Linked DNA regions of Homo sapiens. The protein of the gene in region 2 interacts with the protein of the main gene of each other region in a biochemical or structural test. Each region holds a gene or a part of one and is shown on either strand. Other genes may lie near its edges. The genes, in order: PDHA1 and ACAT1.

What was found.
Region 1: of the proteins of ACAT1 (region 2) and PDHA1, one has a biochemical effect on the other in vitro, tested with the Homo sapiens proteins (one study listed by BioGRID).

Annotation. Positions count from the first base shown.
Region 1 is NC_000023.11:19,353,465-19,357,442, forward strand, and holds part of PDHA1 (pyruvate dehydrogenase E1 component subunit alpha, somatic form, mitochondrial isoform 1 precursor), read left to right. Parts: intron 1-1,026; coding exon 1,027-1,119; intron 1,120-1,884; coding exon 1,885-2,040; intron 2,041-2,221; coding exon 2,222-2,293; intron 2,294-3,978. UniProt on the Homo sapiens protein: The pyruvate dehydrogenase complex catalyzes the overall conversion of pyruvate to acetyl-CoA and CO(2), and thereby links the glycolytic pathway to the tricarboxylic cycle.
Region 2 is NC_000011.10:108,135,067-108,138,663, reverse strand, and holds part of ACAT1 (acetyl-CoA acetyltransferase, mitochondrial isoform b precursor), read right to left. Parts: intron 3,523-3,597; coding exon 3,422-3,522; intron 1-3,421. UniProt on the Homo sapiens protein: This is one of the enzymes that catalyzes the last step of the mitochondrial beta-oxidation pathway, an aerobic process breaking down fatty acids into acetyl-CoA.

The DNA.
Region 1 (3,978 bases), on a different chromosome or scaffold from region 2:
AGCCTAGGAGCAGTAGGCTCTACTATACAGCCTAGGTGTGCAGTGGGCTGTACCATCTAGGTTCGTGCATTACAGTATGGTGTTCACATGACAAAATCGCCTAGTGATGCAATTCTGAGAATATATCCCTGTTGTTAAGTGACGCGTGACTATTTTGGGGGCTTGGTTTGCTTTTAAAGACCTAGTGCTTCATATCCTACCGTTTGAGAGATGAGTAGATTTGGATGGTGATTTATAATGTTTCCTTTTAGGTGTCTGCTGTTTTATAAGTAAGCAGGAACCTCTAGCAGTGGAGCCATACCTTCCCCTTCCTATTTATATTTCAGTACATTAATTGCTTTATCTTGTCAACTTCATTTTGGGGTCCTTGTTCTCATCAGTTAGTGAATGATGAAGAATTAACAGCACAAAATTATATCCGGACTGTTTCTTTTCCTTTCTAATATATTAAGATTCTATTATGTGTTGTTTTTTTTTAAACCTAGGTTTTATTTTTCCTTTTGAAATGGAGTCTTGCTCAGCCGCCCAGGCTGGAGCAGTGGTGTAATCTCAGCTCACTGCAACCTCCACCCCCGGGTTCAAGCAATTCTCCTGCCTCAGCCTCCCGAGTAGCTGGGAATATAGTTACGTGCCACCATGCCCAACCATTTTTTGTATTTTTAGTAGAGACGGGGTTTCACCATCTTGTCCAGGATGGTCTCGATCTGTGGACCTCGTGATCTGCCCAAAGTGCTGGGATTACAGGCGTGAGCCACCACGCCCGGCCAGGTTTTATTTTTTAACTCTTGAATGCAGAAATGTTAGTGCTTACTGGTTAAAATAGAACATAGTATTTATATATTACTTTAGTGCTTTATTGAAAATATCGGAGGTGGGATAAACAGAGAGATAGGGTTGGAAGGAGAGTTTGTAGCAGCAGTGTAATTTCTGTGTCAGATTCTGGCCAGGAGTGAAAATGCAGGGCATTAATTAGTATCTCCCCTCATGGATTTCTGTGGTTCCTTTCTCGGTTGTCCTTAATGTTAGGTGCCCCTGGGCGCTGGGATTGCTCTAGCCTGTAAGTATAATGGAAAAGATGAGGTCTGCCTGACTTTATATGGCGATGGTGCTGCTAACCAGGTAATTATGTCTCTTAACTTCCCAAAAACAGTCTTATTTTCAAAGTCTTTAATATTTACAGTTGAATTTCTAAAGAAGTAGCATATTGCTTATTAGGTGAAATAGCAAGTCCTATGGCTAGCTCAAATTTGGTTGACTTATGGCCAGATTAGAGATTGACCTCTTAGCGTTGTTTCACAAGAGACTTACGGGGGCACATTCCTGTGAAGGAGCTCACCTTTGCTCTACATCAGTGCTTGGCAAAGGCCCTGTGGTAAAGGACCTCCCCACAACCTATTGCAAAACAATACAGACCCATTCTCTTGGATGTCCGGGCTGGCAGTGTCAAATTCGGATAATAGCGTCTGAGTCCTAACTCAGTTTCTATGCTTCTCTTGTTACCGAGTAATCCCCAGTCTGTGGCCAGCACTCTGTGAAGCCCTGTTCTAGAGGCTGATTCTTAGGTGCTGGTTCACTCTGGCTATCCAGTGGGCCTGATAGATTTCATATTGATCTTTTTTCCAGTGTGTTCCTTACTGCTAGCATGGCCCCAAAGAAACAAGTAGTAGTTGGTTTGTCACCTTCCTTAGTTGCAAGAGTATGATGCCTGCTACTTCTCCTCCACCACCCACCCCGCTTTCCCTCACCACCCAAAGCTCGGTTTTAGAAGAGGAGGCTTTCTGTGCTTTATGAAAGCTTTCTGTGCCAGGCAGAGCAGCAGCTGTTAGAGATGATGAAGCCTGGAGAAAGAAGCCAAATGAAACCCCTTTTCGTAACTACTTCCAGGGCCAGATATTCGAAGCTTACAACATGGCAGCTTTGTGGAAATTACCTTGTATTTTCATCTGTGAGAATAATCGCTATGGAATGGGAACGTCTGTTGAGAGAGCGGCAGCCAGCACTGATTACTACAAGAGAGGCGATTTCATTCCTGGGCTGAGAGTAAGGACACCTGTGGTGGGGCCGGGGCCAAGGCCAAGGCCAAGGGTATGTCCTTGTGCAGACCCTTGACGATCTTAGAAACATTGGAGAGTTTCATTCTCATACAGGAGCAGGTCATGTGAAAGTAAAATGGTTTGGGGCAGTTGGATTCATGCTTCGCCCCTCCCCTGTTTATTACCAGGTGGATGGAATGGATATCCTGTGCGTCCGAGAGGCAACAAGGTTTGCTGCTGCCTATTGTAGATCTGGGAAGGTAAGGCTCTAAAGCCCTCTGGGCTAGTGACATTTATCTCTGGAAGTTCAAAGACTGCCTCCCATGTGCCTGCTGAAGCTGTTAGTGGGTACCTGCTAATTGAGGTGCATGAGATGGAAGCAGAGTGAAGGGAGCAGGGCTCCTTTGGGTAGCTTGGTCTTGGTAGCTCACCTGCTGGGAAGCCTACGTTTCTCTCATTTGGGGGAAGTCCGTTCTGGTGCTTCCTCTGCTTTGGCCTGTCTTCATGACAACTGATTTGCCTTTTCCTTAGGTTAATTCTGTCCCTCCTCCCCACCCCCCATTAATCATGAGTCCCTTGAAGGAACAGATTGGGGATCCCCACAGTGTCCAGCATAGAATGTCATGTATACAATAGGCATTTAATATGTGTGTCTTATACAAATTAAACAGTATGGTAGAAGCTCGTAATCTTAGTCTTGCTCAGTCCTAAGGATCTTTCCCTTTTCAGTGTATGGCAGTGAGGGAGATGGTAAGAGGGAGACTGGCCTAAAGAGGTTTCACTTCCTTTGGCACTAGTATAGGCTTAGGAGGTTTGGGTGTTCTCCCTAAATCAGTGTTCTACAGCCCAGAAACAAGGTTTCTGAAGTTGGCACTTCAGCGCCATACCATGTACGTTTAGGCAGTGATGTGAATCAGATGTGGCCAGCAATGATGGAAATGTCACAAAGTGGAGAGACAGGGAAGTGAGGGTGGGAATGTAGTAACATTAAATAAGAGCTAATGAGTAGAATGAACTAGAGCAGGACCAAGACTACAGCTTGGGTACAATGGGCTGAGCAGTCTATGTCAGGACCCTAAGGCTGGGAGTGCCAGGCCCTGAGTGATGGGTATTGACGCCACCTCTCCCAATTCCTGAAAAGAATACATGGGGGCCAGCCCTGGCTGGAGACAAGGGGAGTTGTAGAATGTAGTTGTAGAATGTGTGACTTTCCCAAACAGATAACCTTCACAATTCTGAGTTAGGTGTTATTGTTTTGCCCATTTTGCAGACAAGGAAACTGAGCCATAGAGCAGTTAAAGGTACACAGCTACTCTGTCTTGGAGCCAGCTCCCCACTCGCCCATTTTAACTGCTGCACCAAACCAACCAAGGATCCTCAATGTTTCTCCACCCCAGTGTTCAGAGCCGTCTCCTGGAAGTGGGCTAGTGTAGAATGAGCGAGCCCAACTGTCCAGACTCCCAGCAGAGCCTTGGGGTTTGGGTAGCAGAGGTTGTTGGTGCCTGCCAACTTTGTTACACACTAGCAAGGTCTGTGAAGTAGGAGTGGCTGCCAGCCCCACAACACACCATGAGAAAGGAGCATGAGATGGAAATCTGTCTAGCCAATAGCAGGAGGCTCTAGAACATGCTCAGAGCCTTTTTCTTTTTTCACAGGGTCTCGCGCAGTGGCACACTCACAGCTCACTGCACCCTTGACCTTCCAGAATCAGGTGATCCTCCCAAGTAGCTGGGACTACAGGCGCACGCCACCATGCCTGGCTAATTTTTGTATTTTTTGATAGAGATGGGGTTTTGCCATGTTGTCCAGGCTAGTCTCGAACTCCTGGGCGCAAGTGCTCTGCCCACCTCAGCTTCCCAAAGTGCTGGGATTACAGGCATGAGCCACCATGCCTGGCCTTCAAAGCCTTTTTGATTCAAAACAAGCTGTTGGCAGATTGCCTTAT
Region 2 (3,597 bases):
GCACTTTAGAAGGCTGAGGCAGGTGGATCACTTGAGGTCAGGAGTTCTGGATCCGCCTGGCCAACATGGTGAAACCCCGTCTCTACTAAAAATACAAAAATTAGCTGGGTGTGGTGGTGGGCACTTCTAATCCCAGCTACTCGGGAGGCCAAGGCAGGAGGATTGCTTGAACCTGGGAGGCAGAGGTTGCTGTGAGCTGAGATTGTGCCACTGCACTCCAGCCTGGGGGGCAGAGCAAGACTCCTCAAAAGAAAAAAAAAAAAAGTAGAGGCGGAGATTGCAGTGAGCTGAGATCGTGCCACTGCACTCCAGCCTGGGTGACAGCAAGGCTCTGTCTCAAAAGTTCACAACCAGACATTAATAAGAATACCAGAAATCTGGCTGGGCACGGTGGCTCACCCCTGTAATCCCAGCACTCTGGGAGGCCAAAGCGGGCTGATCACGAGGTCAGGAAATCGAGACCATCCTGGCTAACAGTGAAACCCCATCTCTACTAAAAATACAAAAATTAGCCGGGTTTGGTGGCACACGCCTGTAGTCCCAGCTACTCGGGAGGCTGAGGCAAGAGAATGGCGTGAACCTGGGAGGCAGAGCTTGCAGTGAGCCAAGATCGCACCACTGCACTTCAGCCTGGGTGACAAAGCAAGACTCTGTCTTTAAAAAAAAAATACCAGAAATCTTTCATGTAAAACCATCTTCTGAAATTCTTAAATTTTCTTTTAGACAGGTCTCGCTGTTGCCCAGGCTGGAGTGCAGTGGCACGATCTCAGCTCACTGCAATCTCTGCCTTTTGGGCTCAAGTGATCCTCCCACCTCAGCCTCCCAAGTAGCTGGGACTACAGGCATGCACCATCACACCCAGCTAATTTTTGTATAATATTTTTAGTAGAGATGGGGTTTCACTATATCACCCAGGCCGGTCTCAAACTCCCAGACTCAAGCGATCCGCCCACCTCAGCCTCCCAAAGTGCTCGGATTACAGGTGTGAGCCACCATGACTGGCCTGAAATTCTTAACTTCTAACCCTTCATTTCATTCATGCTGCTAAAAATTTAATGTGCTCTAGAAGATTAGAAGTAATCTCAGTTCATGAAAATAATCATACTTCCTTGACTGAGATCCTCATCATCTCTTCCTGGACAGCTGAGATAATTTTCCACTTGATCTTCTGACATGCAGCCTTTCCACCAAAGCATCATCAACACTCATCTGACTCATTTTGGCTAGAATGTAAGTCTGATCATTTCGCACCTTAGATAACTCAGCATAATATATAAAGCCTTTACAGTATCCCTTCTCTCCCCTTTTTCAGTCTCACAGCCTAACCTATACCTCAGGTCACATGGAACTAGTTAAAGCTCTCCAGAGACACCATGCACATTTCACACACATACCTCTGCACTTTCCCCATCCACCAACATGTAAAACACCTACATTTCTCTTAAAACTAATCAGAACACTACTTCATGTCTGCCTTGACCATTTATTTCTATCCTTTCTTGAAACAGTTTCTCCTCCTTTGTGTTCCCCAATTACTATGCAATGCTTTTAATATTATTATATGTTTACATGTCAAGTCTTCCCACTAGACTATGCTCCTTTGAGGCCAGACACCCTGTCATATTTTTACATCCTTGGCAACTGGCATATATAAGTTTAATAAATATTAATCAACTTGTTACTACTTTACAAGTCAACAAAAAAAAATCACTTGCATTATAAGGGCTAGTTAAAAACAGTTTAATATAAAACATTAATGTAAACATAAAGCCAATAATATCTTCTTACAGTCTTTAATCAGGCATACAGACAAGCAAGCTCTATACCAAAGAAACATAAATATTTTGCCTATTCCGAAATAGAGAAATTCTTAATCAGTTCTCATCTAAGTTTTATTCACTTGTACTTTTTACTGGGGGTGATGGCAATAATAAGTGACAGAAAATAAGGTATCAATTCTTCATTATAAAGTAAAACTGACTGTTTTCTAAGGTCATAAATATTCAAAACAAAGCACTTCCAAGAATGCCTATAAGTCACTGTATATATCCACAAATGAATAAAATAATATTAAATGAAAGTATTTCAATATAGTACAAATGGCATTTGCTAGAGAACCACAATACTTCAATTAAGACAAAACTTTCCATGACAAACAGTTCTGAAACTAAATCTGGTGACCGTTTTTCACCTACCAGTTTGACAAGGGTTTGGTACCACCCAGTGGTGGTGCAGATCCAGACAAGTCACACAATTTTTGGAAAGTCTAACTGGTACAACTTTTATGGAAAGCATTTGCAAATACCAAAATGTTCAAATCCTGACTCAGCATTTCTTTTAGGCATTTTTCCAACAGAGACCTGCACATGTACAGATTTTTTTAAATGTTTTGTTCACCACTCTATTTCCAATGACTGTCACATGGCAGATGCTCAGCCCTGTAACTCTGTGGCTGTCTCAGACACACTGAAAAAAATCTTCATCTGAAAAATGAAGGGCTCAGATCTGAGAGAATCTTGATTCTTCTGTGTGTCCAGGTCTCACCTCCTGACATGACAGCATATTTTTGCTAAGGAGCCTGTCTCTTGCTTGATCTCAAGTAAAGACAAGATATAGATCAGCAAGGCTAATTAGAAAGCCTGTAGAACTTAACTTAATGACTACAAATTAGTCATCAAGCCTGGGCTCAAGCAATGATTTGATTCCCAGGGTTAAGCACCGTGTTCTCCTTTATAATGAAAACCTGTCTTATTCTGGCAAATACAGTATTTATGAATTTTTAGTCACCCAGCCTCAGAGAAAGACCCAAATGCCTTGACTAAAAACAATTTTTTTTTTTTGAGAGTCTTGCTCTATCTCCCAGGTTGGAGTGCAGTGGTACAATCTCAGCTCACTGCAATCTCTGCCTCCCAGATGCAAGTGACTCTTGTGCCTCAGCTTCCCGAGTAGCTGGAATTACAGGCACCTGCCACCACGCCCAGCTAATTTTTGTATTTTTAGTAGAGACGGGGTTTCACCATGTGATCTGCCCCCAGCCTCAGCCTCCCAAAGTGCTGGGATTATAGGAGTGAGCCACTGTGCCTGGGCCTAAAAACAACTTTGTAACACAAGACACTTAGGCTTTTTTTTTTTTCAAAGAGCAGAGTCTCGCTTGCTATGTTGCCTACGCTGGTCTCAAACTCCTGGGATCCTCCTGCCTCGACCTTCCAAAGTGCTTACAGACATGATACCCAGCCTACGCTATCATTTTGACCATACTTCAAATGGACTTAGCAAATCCAGACACTCTTGAGCATGTGAGAAAACATACTAACTTATGAGAAAGAATCTCATTTCTAAAATATGAATATGCCTAGATTTTTGTGTCTTTTAGCCCTAGGTATTACTCTGATTAATAAATGGGAAGGACGGTGTTTCTTACCTGATGTCCACACATAAGACTTTGAGAGGCCATCATGATGGCTTTCATTCCTGAAGCACAAACTTTGTTTATGGTGGTACATGGAGTAGAAATAGGTAAGCCTAAAACCAATATAAGTCACTTTTGAAAAACCGATACTCAAACACAACTGCAGAACTTAATAGAGCATGTTACTA